Homo sapiens: one gene and its partner. The protein of the gene in region 1 purifies or fractionates together with the protein of each later gene. This does not show direct contact. Each region holds a gene or a part of one and is shown on either strand. Other genes may lie near its edges.

Evidence for each region.
Region 2: the proteins of CTSO (region 1) and LYPLA1 purify together in Homo sapiens (affinity purification with mass spectrometry; 3 studies listed by BioGRID and IntAct, with this or other methods). This does not show direct contact.

The regions. Positions count from the first base shown.
Region 1 is NC_000004.12:155,935,585-155,946,526, reverse strand, and holds part of CTSO (cathepsin O preproprotein), read left to right. Parts: intron 1-3,262; coding exon 3,263-3,371; intron 3,372-4,070; coding exon 4,071-4,210; intron 4,211-6,988; coding exon 6,989-7,156; intron 7,157-9,043; coding exon 9,044-9,165; intron 9,166-10,942. UniProt on the Homo sapiens protein: Proteolytic enzyme possibly involved in normal cellular protein degradation and turnover.
Region 2 is NC_000008.11:54,089,288-54,100,229, forward strand, and holds part of LYPLA1 (acyl-protein thioesterase 1), read right to left. Parts: intron 1-10,942. UniProt on the Homo sapiens protein: Acts as an acyl-protein thioesterase. Hydrolyzes fatty acids from S-acylated cysteine residues in proteins such as trimeric G alpha proteins or HRAS.

The DNA of each region.
Region 1 (10,942 bases):
AACAGTGTATCAAGTGGTAACAAATAGAAAATATATGTGGAGATATTTGTCTTTTCAAACACATGGCACAAGACCAAAACCAAGTAACTGTTATTGGAATCATCATTGAAAATTAGGGACATAAATATTTAAAATAAATAAATAATACATTCATTTATTTCATTATTAAATTGGTGTTATTATAACTACTTCACAACCGGAACACCTAAACTTTGGATGGTGAAATGACACTTATAAGGCAACACAAAAATTAAGAGAAGTACATGGGAACTCCCTGCCAACGATGTATAAGTTTGTTTCATCTGGCATTTGCCAACTTGAGTGGCAATATATTGTTTCTCTCGTAGATGTCACAAATGATCTAGTGAGATAAACTTGCATTAGCTCTCCAACTAAATAGAGTATGTGGCTCAACTACTGCCTCCCCTCCCAGACACACGTGTAGAACCCACACGTACAGCATTGCCTACACTCAAGAGTCTAAAATCCATTCCTAGAATTAGATTTTCTTAATTAAACAATTTGTGTAATTTTAAGGATCTTGAAAGGGCGTACCAGTCTATACCTCATGTGCGTGCGTATGTGTGTGTGTGCGCATTTGGTGTGGTGTGGTGTGTGTGTGGTATATTCCTTTTTTGTTCTGTTAATATGGTGTATCGTACTGATGATTGATTTTGAAATTTTAAACCAACCTAGCATTTCTAAATAAACTTCACTTGGTCACAATATATTGTCCTTAACATATATTGTTAGATTTGATTTGCTATTTTGTTAAGGATTTTGTGTCTACAGCGTATTTATGAGGGATACTGGTATGTAGTTCTATTTTATTTAGATACATTTTTCTGGTTTAGAATCAGGGTAACACTGGTCTTATTTAAGTTGCAGCGTATTCCCTTCTTCTTGATTTTCTCAAAGGATAATATTGGTATTACTTCTTTCTTCATTGTATAAAGTTCACCAAAAAGCCACCTGGGCCTGAAGTTTTCTTTGTGAGTCAGTTTTCACTTACAAATTTAATGCCTTTAGCTGATAAAAGGCTGCTCAAGTTTTCTATTTCTCCTTTCATCTTTGGCAATCTGTGCCTTGCAAAAAGTTTGTCCATTTTGTACAGTTTGCCAATTTATTGTCATAAAGTTGTCAAAATATTATTCTTCTAATGCCTGAAGCATCTGTAATCATGGCTCTTCTTTCATTCCTAATATTGGTAAATTGGTTATTCATGTCTTCTCATTCTTTTCTTATTTTTTATTTATTTATTTATTTTTTTGAGTTGGAGGCTCGCTCTGTCGTCCAGGCTGGAGTGCAGTGCTGTGATCTCGGCTCACTGCAACCTCCGCCTTCCAGGTTCAAGCGATTCTCCTGCCTCAGCCCCCTGAGTAGCTGGGATTATAGGCGCCCACCACCACGCCCGGCTAATTTTTGTATTTTTAGTAGAGACAGGCTTTCACCATGTTGGCGAGGCTGGTCTCGAACTCCTGACCTCAGATGATCCACCGACCTCAGCCTCCCAAAGTGCTGGGATGACAGGTGTGAGCCACTGCTCCCAGGCTTTTTTTTTTTTTTTTTTTAATCAATCACAGGAGCAATTCCTGTGAACTAATAGGGAGAGGTCCAGGTAGAGCTATCTGATTGCAATGTAATTCTGACCCTGAGTGAAGGAAAAAAGGAAGGAAGACTGGGGAAGAGTTCCATGCTGTCTCACAGTCCAAGGAAACTTTGGTTTGGCAAGGCCATCAGGGAGTCATTAATCAAAAACCAGCTGTCAGGGGAGTCCCATTTGTCTCCCAAATAGCAAGCCTTAGCACTAAGTCATGAGCTAGGTGCAGCCCGTAAGAACTGTGGCTTCCCTTGGTGTGATCATGGAGATTTCAACTAGCAGCAGCTAAACTCCCTATAGAAAGAAGGCTGGGAGGCACATTCTCATGGCTGCCACATTCTCTCCTGTGCATTCTTAACATCCTACATTTTCAGTGCCTTCCTGACTACTCCAGCTCACAAAGATGGCCAGGCAGTACTTATTGAATGAATGAATCCTCTGAATTCCTTAGCAGTTAATAGTCTCTGGCTTATATTTGTCATTTGCCATATACAGAATTACCTTGTATTCTAGTTCTATTTTTACATTTATATATCCAGGTTATATTGAAAGCCTTGCTTCATCAAGATTATTTTAAAGTACCTCAAAAACTTTATTAATTTGTTGATTAGCAATCTTCCTAGGTATGCACAAAAGGAAAAAAAATAAGATTATGACAACTTCCAGCAATAATTTACTTAAAAATAAACAGCTTAAAGTTATTAAGGGCATGATATGGAAAATGTCACTTATCTATTTATTCAACAACAAACACTTATCAAGGATCTATTGTGTGTCAGCCATGTGCTAAGTGAGTGTCTCACCATAAGGAATAAGACATATAAGCAGTCATCATTTTGCTTATAGGTTTTTGATACAGACACACAATAAACACATAAGTACATAGACAAATATGTAGAAGCGCTAGGGTTGGAAAGGTACCAAATGATAGCCCCCTGAAATTTTATTTATTCTATGTAATTGGTTAGTATTACGAAATTGAAGCATGTTTATATATAAAAGATAAGCTTAAGATAAATTGTCACAAAATTCAAAGTTGAGAAATCAGTAAATAATGGTCACATTTCCCCTCCAGATAGAGAAACCAGGCTATCTTCTTCAAATATTTCCAGAATTGCATCTGTCACAGAGCCTTTGTACCCTACATGAGATAGAGATATCTATAAAGCTTTAATAGAATCAGATTGATTTATTAATTTATTTACCCAGTCTGTTTTTCATGCTTCATTACTTAGTTCCGGGAAACACAAAGGTGAAGAGGACATATTCCATATTCATAATTGTTTAACCACATGAGTGAATGTCTAAAGGTGACAATTTGCTTCTAGTATCTAGTGTTTATTTGCAGTCTATTTCTTTTTTCCCACTATGTCAATACTTTAACAGCTGTATATGGAATGCTTGCAACAAACCTGGTGATGGGGAATTATAAATGAATAAAATACACTTTTCTCAGCCTCAAAAAATGTCTGCAATTAGATAATAATTCTAATAGAAAATATTTATGAATCTCCTATGGATATCTTATACAACTTTACATTGTAGTCTGAAGGAAATCAAGCTTTAACTTTATAATTGAAAAATTTCTCCAAGTTAGTTATACACAGTTTACTTTGGAAAACTGACATAGTGGATATGAAATAGTTTTTGTTTTTCTTCTAGGAAAGTCTTAATAGACATCGATACTTGAATTCTTTATTTCCCAGTGAAAACTCCACCGCCTTCTATGGAATAAATCAGTTTTCCTATTTGTTTCCTGAAGAGTTTAAAGGTATAGTCCGATGTTGCTATTTAGGTGGTTTCCTGATTTTAATTTGCTTGCTTAACTTTTGATAAATATTTCATTGTAAATCTAATATATTGAGTAATAGTTAACATTTATTAAGTGTCTACTAAATGTCAGGCATGTACCATGTGCTCACATAAGAAAATAAATTCATGGCCAGTCTCTTCTAATTACTGCTTAAGAAATGAATGTTATAATTATGCACATTTCCATGTGGCTATAAAGGATAATTGTCTAATCACTTCTGCAGTTTTCTAGTGCTTTTTCTCTTCAGGACACACATGGTTCCATGGGTTATGATAGAACAAATGATGTCAATTATACTTATTTTTATTATTGACCTGGTTCTATCAAACAAATCATTTTATGTGTCAACTCCAGCCTTATTGTAGGAATTCTCTTTTGTAGTTTTTAATGAATGCATTTTATGTTATAGAAAAGCACAAGAGAAAATCTAAAATAGCAGGTCTACTAGAAGGCTACTGTTTCTTCTTTAAAAGTTCCTCCCAAAGAATCTCAAGGATATAATATAATATAATATTGGTTGTCTTTTAGTATAATATTGGTTGTCTCCCTATAATATAATATTGATTGTCTTTATATATAACAAATATATATGATATATATAATATAATATATTGTAATATAATATTGGTTGTATTTTCATTTTATGTTTCTACTCAGCCATTTATTTAAGAAGCAAACCTTCCAAGTTTCCCAGATACTCAGCAGAAGTACATATGTCCATCCCCAATGTGTCTTTGCCGTTAAGATTTGACTGGAGGGACAAGCAGGTTGTGACACAAGTGAGAAACCAGCAGATGGTACGTTGAAATCCCTCTTCTTTTCTAATCATCTAAGCATTGAAAGGCAGCTTTGAGGTCAAGTTTAATCAAAGTTGTAATGGAAACATCATTTCTCTAGGAAAATCACATCTCAGTCATCCAAAAATGACAATGAAAAGAGAATCTCTGGAGGAATGAGAGTCAAATGTCAAAGCCCTGACTTTTATTTCTGAAGATAAACCTTCCTTGCTGTGTACTCTTACTAATTGCCATTGCCACCAACACAATAACTCAGGGATACTTCCCAGTAGCTGTAATAACAGCTCAGGGATACTTCCCAGTAGCTGTATCACAGATACCAAGCTTTCTGTACAATAGCAGATGAGAGGCTGGAGAAGGTAAACATGAGCACTAAAGGCTTAAATGGTTCAAGAAAAAAAAAGTGAAAAAGTAAAATGAAAATGGATACATTTACCAACAGTGTGGCCGAATCTCCTGGGTTCTCAAGCCTCATCTTGCAAGCTCTGTCAGAAAATCTGCCCCCGTCTTCACAGGATCATATACCTTTGAATCTGTGGGCCTTAAAAGTATAGTTAGTAGTCAGTTCAGCCATAACGTGACGCATACATTCCAGAAAATCACCACCTATGCAGAATTGAGCAGTAGCATGACAGGGATTATGGGAGAAATGAGGTTAGGTTACACTACCTACGAGCTTAGTCAATGACATATGTTTTAAAAGACAGAAAACTAATAGACACAGTAGCACAGTTTTACACATGTTTACTGATTAAGAAATATGTAAGTACTGCAATAAATATAGCAATTTACCTTGAAAAGAGACTCAAAGTGTGCTGAGGACATGGGAGTTGGCAGGGCAGCAGCTTGTGAGTTATTCTGAAGTGGTGGAAGGAGGTGCCTTTGAACTAGGAAGGAAAGTGGTAAGAGCAGATGTGGGTGGGTATGACCTATAATGCATGTAGTGAACCCACCTAGCTGGCAGACGTTTGAGGGGTGTGTGCATACTTTGCTGACCTTCCCTACCCGTCTACACTCCCAACTGTTGGCATAGGGAATGCCTGCCAAACAGGCAAAGTCAAACCCCTAACCAGAGGGGATAGTCTCAGTTTGTCTGCAGTGGAAACCTCAACAGATCATTCAGCCTTCCCTTTTATGGAAAGTGTTTTGGTGCCAGCTGTTTCGCAGTCAATGTGTAGTTAGAATGATTTTTGCTTCTCAGAGTCTATATTTATTTTTGTACATTAAGTTTTACCACCAAATCATTTGCTTTATTATTGGATTTGTAATAACATGTCAATTAGACATAAATCTAATCCTTTCAAAAATTGTCCACAGTGTATTGAAGAGGGAACTTTTAATTAGAGATCTTTAATTAAAGGAATGTATGAGAGACTTTTTTTTTTTTTTAAGCAGGAACTGCCCTTGTGGCTTGACTAAAGCTGGCTATAGGGGTGATGTCAGCAGCCTGTTACCTTTTCTCTTTTTTTTTTTTGAGACGGAGTCTCACTCTGTCACCCAGGCTGGAGTGCAGTGATGCGATCTCGGCTCACTGCAACCTCCACCTCCCAGGTTCAAGAGATTCTCCTGCCTCAGCCTCCTTAGTAGCTGGGATTACAGGTGCGCACCACCATGCCTGGCTAATTTTTGTATTTTTAGTAGAAACGGGGTTTCACCATGTTGGTCAGGCTGGTCTTGAACTCCTGACCTCATGATCCGCCTGCCTTGGCCTCCCAAAGTGCTGGGATTACAGGCATGAGCTGCCCTGTGTTCACCTTTGTCAAAGTTTGGAGACCCTGCTGTATGGTCACTTAGTGAGTGTTTTTACTATGCCATAGGCACTAGAGATAGAGATATAACCTTTAAAAAAGCACTTAAAGCCATAAAGTTGCTCAAAACTTAACTCTGCAAAGATATCCAATTGTCATTCCTTTTTTTTTTTGGTCTAACTCTGCCACACATGGCCCTCCAGTTATGTTAGTTTCATCCAGTCTCAAATCCTACTCTCTTCTGCCTTTTCTGTGGATCCTTCTTCCTTTTACGTGATCCTACGATCCCTAATTTCATTCCCTCTGTCTCCTCTCTTTCTTTCAGGACTAGTTCTTTTATTCTTTTGTTCTAGTTTGTTAAGTAAAAGCAAATTAAGAGATCCACTATCAGCATGATTGGCAGCCAATACTGGAGTAATGACTAATATGGATTTATATCCTTAGGACATTTCATGTACATCCACTATAAGCATACTTAATCGGGCATCTTTATAGCCTAAAGAGTAATTCATTAATATTTATTAATTCTCTTATCTCCATCAAATAATTAGCACAACATGCATCTTTCCCCTCCTCACCCTTAGGATGGAAGTGGTGTATGACCATGGAAGCAGAGTGTCCTTAAAAAAGCAAGGGGGATGGAAGGTTGGGGCGGGAGTCGGCACACACTCTCCAGAAGAAAAGCCACTTACAAAGAGAAGTCACATATTCAGTGAACTGAATGGTCTTTTAGAAGATCATCAGTTAGCCCAAGTATTTCCTCGGTCTCTAAAAATTCACTTTTATCTTGCATTGCCAAATTTAGAATAGTAATAATGCTGACAACATGAACTAATAATTAAATGATGCTCAAAAGAGACTTTTGGTTTTCTCTTTTTTTCAGTTTAAAAATCTAGAGGATAGGCGTATTTATTTTGTAGGTTTCCAGAATCTGGAAGCCTTACTTGATTTGATAACTTGTTACATTTAGAGATGTTGGTAAGTTGATTTAAACCCTGGAAATACCACCCCTTTTTCTGTTTTTAAACAGTGTGGAGGATGCTGGGCCTTCAGCGTGGTGGGGGCAGTGGAATCTGCTTATGCAATAAAGGGGAAGCCCCTGGAAGACCTAAGTGTCCAGCAGGTCATTGACTGTTCGTATAATAATTATGGCTGCAATGGAGGCTCTACTCTCAATGCTTTGAACTGGTTAAACAAGGTGACTAGTCTCTCAACCTCTTAAACTCTTTATTTCCTTTTTTGCTTGTTTACTGTGTGTTCAAAATTCAAACAGTTTGTTCACATATATTAAATAATGTTTCCACGTTCGGAAATGTAGATGATCAAAGCATGAAGTAATTAATCAGAATATTTAAAAATGAATCACTTCTAGGCAAAGCAGTTGTCAAGAAATCAAAAGGGGAAAAATCTGAAGTCTGTCTTCAGAGAAATATTTATATTTATTTCTTAACATTTCTTAATATATACATGCTTTTTTGCAGATCTGAATATCTCATAATATCCCGGAAAGATGAGAATATATTTTTTTTATTTTCATAGAATTTCTGAATGTTAAGGTTAAAAGGAACATTAGAGACTAATTTTTTAGCTCTTTTTTGTTGTTGTTGTTTTTGAGACAGAGTCTCACTCTGTCACCCAGGCTGGAGTACAGTGGCACAATCTTGGCTCACTGCAACCTCCACCTCCCGGGTTCAAGTGTTTCTGCTGCTTCAGCCTCCGGAGTAGCTGGGAACTATAGGTGCCCACCACCACACTTGGCTAATTTTTTTGTTTTTTTTGTTTTTTGTTTTTTGTTTTTGTTTTTTTAGTAAAGACATGGTTTCACCATATTGGCCAGGCTGATCTCGATCTCCTGACCTTGTGATCCACCCGCCTCAGCCTCCCAAAGTGCTGGGATTACAGACATGAGCCACCACACCCAGCCTGTAGCTCTTTTTATAGATGAAGAAATGAAGCCTGAGAAGTGAGATCATTTTGTCAAGTCAGTAGCTGAGCCGGAGTTGTACCTTCAGTCCCCAGCCTCTCACAGTAGGGCTTTGCTCAGTATACCCCAGTGTCCCTCAGCGTTCTTAGCACTTGCCCTGACAGTGTCCCAGATCCGATATCAACTGCATGAAATTTGCCAATGAGGGTGCTATTAGTTTCTGTAGAACGTCATCAAACCAGAGTTCCCCAAACCTGAATTCTCTTCCATTATCCATTGGTTGCATTTTTAATCACGTATTCCAGGACCTGCTCTGTACACACTGTAGACGACAATGAATTATGAGTCTCCTCCCTTTCATTAGCCTAGCATTCAAAAAGGGAGGGTTTTGTACAGATAACTATGAAGTATTTGACATATGCTATATGAATGGCATAAAAGTGAAGTGATAGAAAGAATGCTTGACCTAACCGTTGCCTGTGTATAAACCACTGGATGGAATCTGAAAGACTTGGCAGAACCAGAAGCACTGGGAGGAAAGTGAGCTGCCCTATAGCACCGTCAGGAGAAAGATGACAAGACTGTTACTAGATCCATGGAGGATCTACAAAAGGATGCTGTAAGATAAAGAGAAGTAAGGGAGAAGGAAAGATATTGACTCCAAATGTCTAGACTATCCAGAACAAGCACCTAAAGATTTAATTTATAATATTAAAAACCCAAAGTATAGGCTGGGCACAATGCCTCACACCTGTAATCCCAGTATTTTGGGAAGCCAAGGCAGGTGGATTTCTTGAGTCCAGGAGTTTAAGACCAGCCTGGGCAACAGAGTGAGACCCCATCTTTACAAAAAATACAAAAAATTAGCCTGGCGTGGTGGCTCATACCTGTAGTCACAGCTACTGGGGAGACGGAGGTGGGATGATCACTGGTGCCCAGGAGGTGGAGATTGCAGTGAGACGAGATCGAGCCACTGCACTCCAGCCTGAGCAACCAAACAAAACTCTGTCTCAAAAAAGAAAAAGAAAAAAAAAAGAACGCAAAGTATATCCACATGATGAAGGTGTGTGAAATTGAACCTGTTTTGACACAGTGAAGTAAGTTCTATTTGATTTATAAAACAATTGACAGTAAACATGTTCAGTGATTGTTTTCTTTTAGATGCAAGTAAAACTGGTGAAAGATTCAGAATATCCTTTTAAAGCACAAAATGGTCTGTGCCATTACTTTTCTGGTTCACATTCTGGATTTTCAATCAAAGGTTATTCTGCATATGACTTCAGGTAAAGATCTTATTGTATTATGTTTTTCTTTATACATTTTTAATTTATGATCTATTGACTGGTTAATAATTTGTTTGAAGGCATCACTGCATACTCTTAATCCTTGTAAAACATACTTTTTACTAGAAAGAGTAGCAATTACAATGAAATGTTGTAAATGTTGTTTCTTAATTATAATCTACTTATTTTCCCAAGTGTCATTACGATAGAAATGAAAAATTTTAATTCTGTGTAAGGTACAATTTATATGTATATTTATTTGTTATATTTTATATTTTATTATACTTACAAATTATTAGTGCATAATTTATATTTATATATACCACCTTCATCTTATCAAATTTAGGTGTTATATTACCATTAGCATATTTCAATCTTAATGGTGAGTCCATCCAGAATTGCTTTGTACAGACTGTGCAGCTAATATCACGTAGGCTACATATCAGGAAGCATATTTTGAACACCTTCTATGTTCTTTGCATTTTTCAAGACATCAGCCATTTGAAAAATATAACACAAAACTTCAGATTAGAGAAAAGAGGGAAGCATATACTACTGAAGATAAATTATGTAGCATACACTATAAGCATGATGGGAATGTAGGGATAGATAAAGACAGGCTGAGGAAAAGGACTTGTGTTGGAACTGAAGGGCAGGATAACTTTGGATAGTTTTGGGGAAAACAATCATTAAAAATGCTTTAAAAACACATGAAAAACACAGAGCTGGCTGGAGACTCATCATGACCATTTGATAGAGTGCAAAATAGGTGTTCATGGGTGAAAAGGACAAAGGGAGACCCAACCAACTCCTGGCTTCATTAAGAAAATATATGATGGGAACTTTGCAGTCTTTTGAAACAGAGAAAACAGGAACTAAATTAAATTTGGATAAGGTAACAGAATCCCCTATGACTTAGTGGTCCTGAATATAAAATAATCCCTTGATCCAGATGGTATCTACCCATGGGATCTGAAAGAAATCAAGGGTGAAATTGCGTCCTTGAACAAAATGTACCCGTTTAAATGAGCATAAGTGTGCCAGAGAACTGTCAGGTTGTCAACACAGCTCCGGTCTGCAACAAGGGTCCTCAGGGTGACACCAGGAACCATACACCAGACAGCCTTAATTCCACAGCTGGCAGACCATGTAGGATTTATAATAAAATGTGCAGGGTCACTGAGTACCGTGGTCAACATCTCATTTGGGGATAAAGGTAATGTGCTTTCTAAAATCAGAAAGTATGCCCTATAAACTCTGACTTCCTTGAGAGTATAAGGGAAGGATGTGTACAAGAAAAAACTAGATTTACAAAATATCATTAAAAGGGATTAAGGGAATCCCTTATCATGGTAGGAAATTGAAAAAAAAATTAAGAAGAAGCAAAAGAATAATAGGCATTAGTCTGAATTAAGGGAAAGAGAGAATGCAGGAGTTGTTGGCATTGGGCCTTTGATTAGGAAGGAAGAGGTCCCAATCAAAATATCTTGTTTATATTGAAGATTAAACTCTAACAGTGCAATGCTAAACTGATAGCATTTGACTGCAAGAAGATCTTTCTTTGATTTATTTATTCATTCAAATATTTACTGACTTTTTTTTAAGTTCTGGGGATTTGGCAGAGAACAAAACAGACAAAAACCTTGCCCTCATTAGTAATTGAGACAGACAGTCACAAAAAATAAAAATACATGTGGCATATTGGCTGTAATAATTAACAAAGAGAACAAATGAAAACAGTGGGAGGAAGAGAAACGATCTGGTAGTAGGGGGAGTG
Region 2 (10,942 bases), on another chromosome or scaffold:
AATAGGTGAGTACAGAACAAGAATATATTTTGAGAGAGAGATCACATTCACATAACTTTTATTACAGTATGTTGTTATAATTATTCTATTGCTGTTGTTCACCTCTTTGCCTAATTTATAAATTAAACTTTATCACAGGTATGCATGCATAGGAAAAAACATAGTATCATAGGGTTTGGTACTCTCTGTGATTTCAGACATCCCTGGGGGGGGGCGGGATCTTTGAACATATGTGACAATACTAACACTAATATGTATGTATTAGAATGTATATACTAACACTGTAATAATAAGTAAGTGGCAGGCCAGAATTGAACCATGGGCCCTTGTTTGCCAACCTCTTTTTTTTTTTTTTGAGATAGGGTCTCACTGTTGCGCAAGCTGGAAGTGCAGTGGCATCATCTCAGCTCACTGCAGCCTCGACCTCCCAGGCTCAGGCGATCCTCCCACCTCAGCCTCCTAAGTAGCTGGGATTACAGGCACACTCTACCATGGCTGGCCAATTTTTTGTATTCTTTGTAGAAGGTGGATGATACGGTTTGGCTGTGTCCCTGCCAAAATCTTACCTTGAATTGTAATAATCCCCATGTGTAGGGAGACCCCCTGAAACTATTGCTACGGAATAAAAGATGAAATGCTCCTGATTATTGTAAATACAAAATTGCATGCAGGATTGTGTAAAGACAATGCCAGGTTGGACTGCCAGAACGAGCCAACAGCGTGTGATGTGCTTCCCCCTGCAAAGAGCCTATGAATGGATGTGCAATCACGGAGGATTCACATCACCAAGATTCCTATCCCAGAAAAGCAGATGTTCATAGCTCTGGGAACAGAATGCGACCCTTGTGGAGAGCCTATAAACGGACGCATTGGGGGCGCCTGTCCACATGGATAAGATAGGGCTATAAATGCCCTCATCTTGCCACGGTTCTTCTAGGCCTCTTTAGGGTTAAGACATACTCCCCTTCTGAGAATTTCTGGTCTAACCAGTTGTCTAGCTTCACATCCTGTTTCTATGGATTGTTTGTAACCAGCTTTTGCTACAACTGTTACTGCTGATTAATATCTTGCTAATCATAGGTTATGGAAAGACTGTGTTTCTGTTTTAAGGCTCTATTAGAAATTACTGATGCACACACTATATTGTAAATTCTTATCTCTGTATACTGTACTTCTACATACAAATGTACTATACTTCTACATACAAATGTTATGTTAAAGAATTATTTCATCCCCATGTGACCATCTCACCTCATAATCAAATGACCCTAAATCCCTCACTAACCTACCCCCGCCCTCACTAAACTTAGTAATAAATGCTGGTATATCCAGTGCATTGTTGGCACCGCGGGACCAGAAGACAGTGACCCCCCTGGACCCAGCTTTCACTATCTTGTGTGTGTCTATTATTTCTCAACCTGCCGATCCGCCTGGGAACAAAGAGAGAGCCCCATTGCATTGCGGGCTGCTGGCCAGATCCCACAATACCCATGTGTCAAGGGTGGGACCAGGTAGAGATAATTGAATCACAGGGGTGGTTTCCCCCATGCTGTTCTTATGACAGTGAGTTCTCATTTGATCTGACAGTTTTATAAGGGGCCTCCCCCTTCGCTCAGCTCTCATTTCTCTCTCCTGCCACCCTGTGAAGAGGTGCCTTCCACCTTTCCTGAGGCCTCCCCAGCCATGCAGAACTGTGAGTGAATTAAACCTCTTTTCTTTATAAATTACCCAGTTTCGGTAATTATTTATAGCAGCAAGAGAACTAATACACAGGGTTTTGCCATGTTGCCCAGACTGATCTCAAACTCCTAGGCTCAAGCCATCCTCCCACCTCAGCTTCCCGAAGTGATAGGATTACAGGTGTGAGCCACCATGCCTGGCTCCAACCTCCATTCTACATAAGAAATACTAAGAACCAGGCAGGGCATGGTGGCTCATGCCTGTAATCCCAGCACTTTGGGAGGCCGAGGTGGGCGGATCACCTGAGGTCAGGAGTTCAAGACCAACCTGGCCAACACGGTGAAACCCTGTTTCTACTAAAAATACAAAAATTAGCCGGGCACAGTGGCGGGCACCTGTAATCCCAGCTACTCAGAAGACTGAGGCAGAGAATCGCTTGAACCCAGGAGGCAGAGGTTGCAGTGAGCCGAGATCACGCCACTGCACTCTAGCCTGGGCAACAAGAGCAAAACTGTCTCAAAAAAAGAAAAGAAAAGAAAAGGAAAGGAAAGAAAAAGAAAAGAAAAAAGAAAAGAAAAGAAAAGAAGAAAGGAAGGAAGGAAAGAAAGAAAGAAAAGGAAGGAAGGAAGGAAGGAAGGAAGGAAGGAAGGAAGGAAGGAGAAATACTAAGAACCCTTATATGAGAAAAAGAAATAGGAATCTTGGGTTCTAGTCCCCACTCAGCCACTATCTAAAAGTGTGGTCACAGACAGTTCCGTCAGTCTGGTGGTTCTCAGAAGTGTGATCCCCAGACCTGTACTATCAGTATCCAATGAGAACTTGTTAGAAATGCAAATTCTGGCCAGGCACACTGGCTCATGCCTGTAATCCCAGCACTTTGGGAGGCCCAGATGGGAAGACAGTTTGAGCCCAGGAGTTAGACTAACCTGGGCAACATACTGAGACCCTCATCTCTACAAAAACTTTAAAAAATAGCCAGGCATGGTGGCATGCAGCTGTACTTCCAGTCACTTGGGAGGCTGAACCCAGGAGGTCAAGGCTGCAGTGAGCTGTGTTCACGCCACTGCACTCCAGCCTGGGCAACAGAGTGAGAGACCCTGTCGAAGCAAGGAGGAGGAGGAGGAAAAGGAGAAGGAAGAGGGGGAGGGGGAGGCAGCGGCGGCAGAGGAGATGGAAGAGGCAGAGGCGGCGGCGGAGGAGAACCCTGTCGAAGTCAGGGGGAGGAGGAGGAGGAGAAAGACGGAAGAGAAGGAGGAGGAGGAGGAGAAGGAGAAAGAAGGAAGAGAAGGAGAAGGAGGAGAAGGAGAAAGAAGGAAGAGAAGGAGGGGGAAGAGAAGGTGGAGGAGGAGGAGAAGGAGGAGACAGAGAGAGAAGGAGGAAGAGGAGGAGAAGGAGAAGGAAGAGGAGGAAGAAAGAAGAAAGAAGAAGAGGAGGCATGCAGACAAATTCCTTGGTCTCATTCCAGACCCACTCAATCAGAAACTGGCAGTGGGGCCCAAGAATCAAGTCTTTCAAGTGATTTTGATGCATGCTATAGTATGAGAATCATGCCTTTCTAGTTCTCAGTTTTCCCATCCATAACCAGGAGCTAGTTGTACTGGATGATTCGAAGGTCTATACAGGTTATAAAACTCTGACTCCAACCATATTAATATAAAAAGGATGGCCAAGCTGTAGCCAACTCTTTTGATAATTTTCAGTGACAATGAAAAACTCAAGATTTAAGAATTCTGGCTGGGTGTAGTGGCTCACACCTGTAATGCCAGCACTTTGGGAAGCCAAGGTGGACAGACTGCTTGAGCTCAGGAGTTTGAGACCAGCCTAGGCAACATAATGAGTCCCTGTCTCTACTTAAAAACAAAACAAAACAAAACAAAATCAGGACCTGTGTGGTGGCACGCACACATATTATTTCCATTTGTTCATTATCCTGTAGTAATATGGGTGTAGAACAGAGATTCTGTCTGGGTTTGTAAAAGAAACACCACTCATCCCCAACCCCATTCATGTAGCACGTTATTCTTATGAACTCTCCTATCAGTCCCAATCAGTCTTACCAACTAACTAGACAAGAAAAAAAATGACCTAAGACAGATCAGATTCTTGACTGAACACCAGAAGTAGGGTTGATATAAGTCAGAGCTAGGATCGTTCACTTGTGGATAACACGAGTGTGTCCACACTGAGAATTACGCAAATCTACAGAAAGAAGCAAGTGAGAGACCATAAGACCAGGGAAAGGTAGTGAGAATAATGGTGTAGTTGAACAGTGTTCCCCCCAAATTCACATCCACCTGAAACCTCGGAATGTGACTTTATTTAAAAATAGGCTCTTTGCAGATTTCCTTAGTTAAGAGTTGAGATCACACTTGATTAGGGTGAGCCCTAAATCCAATAACTGGTGTCCTCCTAAGAGGAGGAGAGAACAGAAACACAGCAAAGGTCACATGAAGACAGAGGCAGAGGTTGGGGGTATGGTGCCTGAGGCCAAGGAAAGCCGGGAGTTATCAGAAACGGAACAGGCAAGGACGGATCTTCCGTTAAAGAGAATGTATGTGGCCCTGTTGACAGCTTGGTTTTGGACTTTTGGCCTGTTTAACTGTGAGAATGAATTTCTGTTGTTTTTAATCCATCTAGTTTGTGGTTATTTATAATGGCAGCCTTAGGAAACTAATACATGTGGTGATTGATGCTCCTCGTATGTCTCACCCTTTAATTCTTTATTTATTCATTTATTTGTCCAACAAATACTTAGTGCTATTACATGTCCTATACTATTCTAGCACTGGGAATACAGTATTAATTTAAACAAAACACAAAAAATCCCTGTGCTGAGGTATATTTTATGGTATGTGAATTTTATCTTAATGAAAGTTTATTAAAGAAACCTTTGCCTTCATGGACTTTATATGCCAGTGGGCTGCCCTTCTATCCTTCCACAAATTCTAATTTTTGTTTAAGCTAGTTGAAGAGTTTTCTATTCCTTGTAATTAAATGATCTCCAAATCACATTCTATAATTCTATTATTAATAGTTCTTGATTACAGGAAGACTTGCAAACTTATTACGGTCACAAAACATATCCATGTTGCCAATTTATTTTAAATCCTCACCTTGTTTGACCTCTCAGTAAAATCTGATCCAGTCAACCACTTATTTTATCTTTCAAACATTCTTCTCTATACTTTTATAATCTCCTTGGTCTAGGAAATGTCACAGGGACTGGTAATACAGATAAGTAATTCCTGGAATACATCGGGGCTGGGGAGTAGCAGGGAGGGGGACACATGAAGAGAACCAAGCTTTCCACCAGGCCTTTCCTCCTCCTCGTTTCCCCTTAATTGGAACTGAGCTTTCAGGTGTGATATTCAGCAGATGGGGAGAGGTCCCATGAATGAAGCATAGCTGTGAGCTGGTGCAACTGGAGGGGCACACTCCACAGTTGCACTGTTGGCCAGAACCCCCCAAGAACAGAAGTCAGGTTCCTCACGGAATTACAAATATGGAAAGGGAGAAGGCTATAATAAACCCTGTGGTGCTGGGCTGCAATTGGAGGAATCATTATAAACTCAAGATTTTGAATACTTATAAATACTAAAACTGATATGTGTGTACATATGTATGTATGTCCATATATTCTTAGCTCTGTCCACTGCAAGGGTCTAGATCTGGGAGCACATATAGCATCCAGATCTCACTGTCTACTAAAAGGAACCAGGGTTCTTGGAAAAATGGCTGAGTCCAGGACTAGAGCAGGAAACATATAAGACAATCCTAGAAAAAGTCTTGTACCATAAAGTGAGGAAGTGATCAAATAAGAATGAGGATATGTCCAAAAGACACCAAGTACCAGCTTGAAAGGGTTACTGTGGCCAACTAAAGGACAATTTGAGCATCAAAATAAATAACTAACTTGATTGTTATCCTCTGAATACAATAGGAATCCAAGAGTCTGTACTGATTTAAAATTTTGAAACAAATGAGTATCTACATAAGTAATAAATAAAGGAGAAAGGAAAGCTCTACCCCACAGTAGACTGCTAAATAATAAATCCAGAATAAAGGAATTTTTTTTTTTTTTGAGACTGAGTCTCACTGTCGCCTAGGCTGGAGTACAGTGGCACCATCTTGGCTCACTGCAACCTCCAGCTCCCAAGTAGATGGGACAACAGGCATGCACCATCCTGTCCAGCTAGTTTTTTAATTTTTAGTAGAGACGAGGTTTCGTCATGTTGGCCAGGCTGGTACTGAACTACTGACCTCAGATGATCCTCCTGCCTCAGCCTCCCAAAGTGCTGGAATTACAGGCATGAGCCACTGCACCCGGCCAGAACAAAGGAAATTTAATTAAAAGACCATATTTTAACTTTAAATATTTAAATATCATAAGATATTCGGCAACTACCACAACAATAGATTCTGGCAATAATCATTAATGGGTGCTAAATCCATGGGTGAACATATGGTGGGGATCAGGAATATGTTATAATATCAAGGTATCTCCCCACAAAATATTTTTTAATATTTTAATTACATATTCAATATTTTAAATATTTCATATGTTATATTTATTATTTTAATGTGGAGAAACCTGGCAGACACCATCTTAACCAAGTGATAAAACACATCAGTAACAACAAAATCATCATGAGGTCTGCCTAATATGATGCACTGTTATGGACACAGCAATACCCCTATAGTGTTACTGTCAAAAAGGTATAAATCACAAAACATCAGATAAACCCAAACTGAGGGACATTCTACAAAGTAACTGGCTTACACTTTTTTTTTTTTTTTTTGGTAGACACAGGGTCTGGCTGTTGCCCAGGCTGGTCTCAAACAGCTGGGCTCAAGCGATTCTCATGCTCAGCTTCCCAAAGCACTGGTATTACCATACCCGGCCTGTATTCTTGACAAAGTGTCAAGGTCATGAAAGACAAGGACTGTTTCAGAATAAAGAAAACTAAAGAGAAATGATAAGTAGAGGCAATATGTGATCCTAGACTGATAAAGGACATTATTGGCTCAAATCAATGAAATGTGAATGGAGCTGGTGGATTAGACCGTAGTATACCATCAGTGTTAACTTCTTAATGATGGTTATACTGGAGTGTCCTGGTACTTAAAAATGTACACTGAAGAATTAAGCTGTAATGAGGCAACACGCCTGCAACTTATTCTTTAATAGTTCAGAAATATTAACAATTGGGTAATTTGGGTGAAAGGTATAAGGAGCTATAAATGTTATTTCTGCAACTTTTATGTAAATTTCAAGTTATTTAAAATGAAAAGTTAAAAAGTTTAAAACATAACAGAATAGAACATAACCTATTAAATAAATCTGAGTCCAGGCATGACACAGTGGTTCATGCCTGTAATTCCAGGGAGGGACTGGGAGGCCGAAGTGGGCAAATCACTTGAGGTCAGGAGTTCGAGACCAGCTTGGCCAACATGGCAAAACCCCGTCTCTACTAAAACTACAAAAATCTGACTGGACACTATGGCTCACGCCTGTAATCCCAGCACTTTGGGAGGCTGAGGAGGGCAGATTACGAGGTCAGGAGTTTGAGATCAGCCTGACCAACATGGTGAAACCCCCCCGTCTCTACTAAAAATACAAAAAAAATTAGCCAGGCGTGGTGGCACGTGCCTGTAATCCCAGCTACTCATGAGGCTGAGGCAGGAGACTCACTTGAACTCAGGAGGCAGAGGTTGCAGTGAGCCAAGATCACGCCACTACACTCCAGCCTGGACGACAGGGCGAGACAAGGTCTCAAAAAAAAAAAAAAAAATTAGCCGGGTGTGGCGGCACGCACCTATAGTCCCAGCTACTTGGGAGGCTGAGGCAGCAGAACTGCTTGAACCTGGGAGGTGGAGGTTCAGTGAGCCGAGATTGCACCACTGCACTCCAGCCTGGCTGGGTGACAGAGCGAGATTCTGTCTCAAAAAATAAACAAATAAATAAATAAATAGAAAATAAATCTGAGTCCATACTAACTAAATGGGGAGTAGCAGATTAATAAACAAAATGGAATGACAAAAAAAAAGGAATGACAGAATTGGAAAATCACACTGTAGAAATGATTGACTCAAGCAATTATCAATGGATGATAAAAATATTGGGTGAAAGCTTGATGAACAACTTGCATAGTCACAAAGTATCCCCCCGCAACTTGCTTTTTAATTACAAAAGGAAAGTAACTGCAGTCGAGACCTGGAAGATACCACCTTAATCAAAAGATCGAAGTTACAACAATAAAAGGACTCAGCATCATTAGTCTACTGATGCGCGCAATGAATAGGACATATTGTTTACATGGTATTTATACCAGAAATGCATAAACTGAATCTAATCATGAGTAAATACACAAACCCAAATTAAAGGACTAGCCTGTTCTCTGCAGAAGTGTCAATGTCGTGAAAGACAAAAGAAAATCTAGGGAATTGTTCCAGATTAAAAGAGACAAAAGAGACTAAAGAGACGTGATAACTAAATATAATGTATGACTAGGGAGGAGATAGCTATAAAGGATATTAATGGAACAATCTGGCAAAGGTTGAATGCATAATATATTAGATAATACTAAATGTTAAATTTAATGGGATAACTTTTCTGTGATTATATAATGTTTAAAATACCCTAGTCCTTCTCACCCACAGTTTTGTTTTCCATGGTTTCAGCTGCCCACAGTCAACTGTGGTTCGAAAATATTACATGGAAAATTCCAGAAATAAACAGTGGGGGATGCTCTAAAACCCCTAGTGGATGCCTGAATCCATGGATAACACCAAACCCTATATATACTATGTTTTTTCCTATACATAATGCTTGTGATAAAGTTTATTGTGTAAATTAGACATAGGAAGAGATTAACAATAATAAAACAATTATAACAATATGACAACATCACTTCTCTTGCACTTTGGGGCCATCATTAAGCAATGTAAGGCTTATTTGGATAAAAGCACTACAGGCTGGGCGAGGTGGCTCATGCCTGTATTCCCAGCACTTTGGGAGGCCAAGGCGGGCAGATCGCTTGAGGTCAAGAGTTCCAGACTGGCCTGGCCAACATGATGAAACCCCGTCTCTACTAAAAATACAAAAATTAGCCGGGTGTGGTGGTGCACGCCTGTAGTCCCAGCTACTCAGGAGGCTGAGGCAGGAGAGTTGCTTGAACCTGGAGAGTGGAGGTTGCAGTGAGCCATGATTGTGTCACTGCATTCCAGCCTGGGTGACAGAGCAAGACTCTGTCTCAAAAAAAAAAGCAAAACAATACCAAAACAGTTGACCTGATAACCCAGATGGCTACCAAGTGACTAACAGATGGTGAATGGATATAGCATGGATACGCTAGGTAAAGGAATGATTCGTGTCCTGGGTGAGACGGAATGAGATTTCATCACAATACTCAGAATGGTGTACAATTCAGGCCAGGCATGGTGGCTCATGCCTGTAATCCCAGCACTGCGGGAGGCCGAGGTGGGTGGATCACTAGAGGTCAGGAGTTCAAGACCACCCTGGCCAACATGGCAAAACCCCATCTCTACTAAAAATACAAAAAAATTAGCTGGACGTGGTAGCACGCGCCTGTAATCTCAGCTACGCCGGAGGCCGAGGCACAAGAATCACTTGAACCCGAGTGGCAGAGGTTGAAGGGAGCCGAGATCGTGCCACTGCACTCCAGCCTGGGTGACAGAGTGAGACTCCATCTCAAAAAATAATAATAAAATAAATAAAAAAGAATGGTGTACAATTTTAAACTTATAAAGTATTTCTGGAATTTTTCATTTAGTATTTTCAAACCACAGTTAACCACGGGTAACTGAAACCATGGGAAGCAAAACTGCAGGTAAGGGGAGACTACAATATCTTAAGTATTAAATTGCCACTTGTCAGGCTGACAGGTTCGAAGTTTCATCATGCACTCATGGAACCAATCTAGAGTCAGCCTTTCCTTAGCATTATCCCACCAAATAATTTCAGAACTGGAGACCTTTGTTTTTTCTTTTATCACAACAGGTTAAAAAGAAGGATACTTTTTTAATATAAACTTAACTTTTGGTCAAGATGTAATGGATGTTCTTGGTATTTTTGATCCTAATAGTCTTCACCATTTTTACTTTTAGCTTCAGTCTGTGGAATCTGCCTAGACTGAAGTTTTTTTTTTTTTGCTTGAACTAATCATTCAGGCATAGAAGTGCTCATTATTGGCAAAGTTAGAGGATAGCAACCTTCTCCCTGACTTGCAACATCAAGAAAGGTTTGGCCATAAAATAGAGATTCTGCTATTCGAGTTTCATTTGGTAAAATAAGTTCATCATTTTCACAGGACCACTGGATTGCCAGAAAGAGTGCTGCAACCTTTTCTGTAACTCCATACAAAGTTTGTATTACATAACTCGACTTATTAGGCAAAAAATAGGAATCACTTTTAAGTGGTGGCTCACGCCTGTAATCCCAGCACTTTGGGAGGCTCAGGTGGGTGGATCATTTGAGGTCAGGAGTTCGAGACCAGCGTAACCAACATGGCAAAACTCTGTCTCTACTAAAAATACAAAAATTAGCTGGCATGGTGGCAAGCAACTGTAGTCCCAGCTACTCGGGAGACCCAGGAACCCAGAAGGTGGAGGTTGCAGTGAGTCAAGATCACGCCACTGCCCTCCAGCCAGGGCAACACAGCAGACCCTGTCTCCAAACAAACAAACAAAAATCTAGCCTAATGGCATTTTTTTTTTTTTTGAGTCTCACTCTGTGGCCCAGGCTGGAGTGCAGTCGTGCAATCTTGGCTCACTGAAGCCTCTGCCTCCCAGGTTCAAGTGATTCTCTTCTCTCAGCCTCCCTAGCAGCTGGGATTACAGGCATGCACCACCACACCCGGGTAATTTTTATATTTTTAGTAGAGATGGGGTTTCACCATATTGGCCAAGCTGGTGTCGAACTCTTGACATCAAGTGAACTACCCACCTCGGCCTCCCAAAGTGCTGGGATTACAGGTGTGAGCCACCGCGCCCGGCCCCAATGGTTCATTTTAAAGAAAATTTAGTCGTTCTGGGGCTACTTTATCAAAATTTATTTATCTTCAGTTTTCCTCTATTTCTGCAATTTTTCAACAACATTCATATTTTGCTTAAGTTTCACAGATTATCACCAATTTAAATATAAAAACAAAAACATCTCAATATAGAAAAAGCTTGAGTAAAAGATAAATCATGTATCTAAAGTTAGTACAAAAGGCCAGGCTCAGGCAGCTCCCACCTCTAA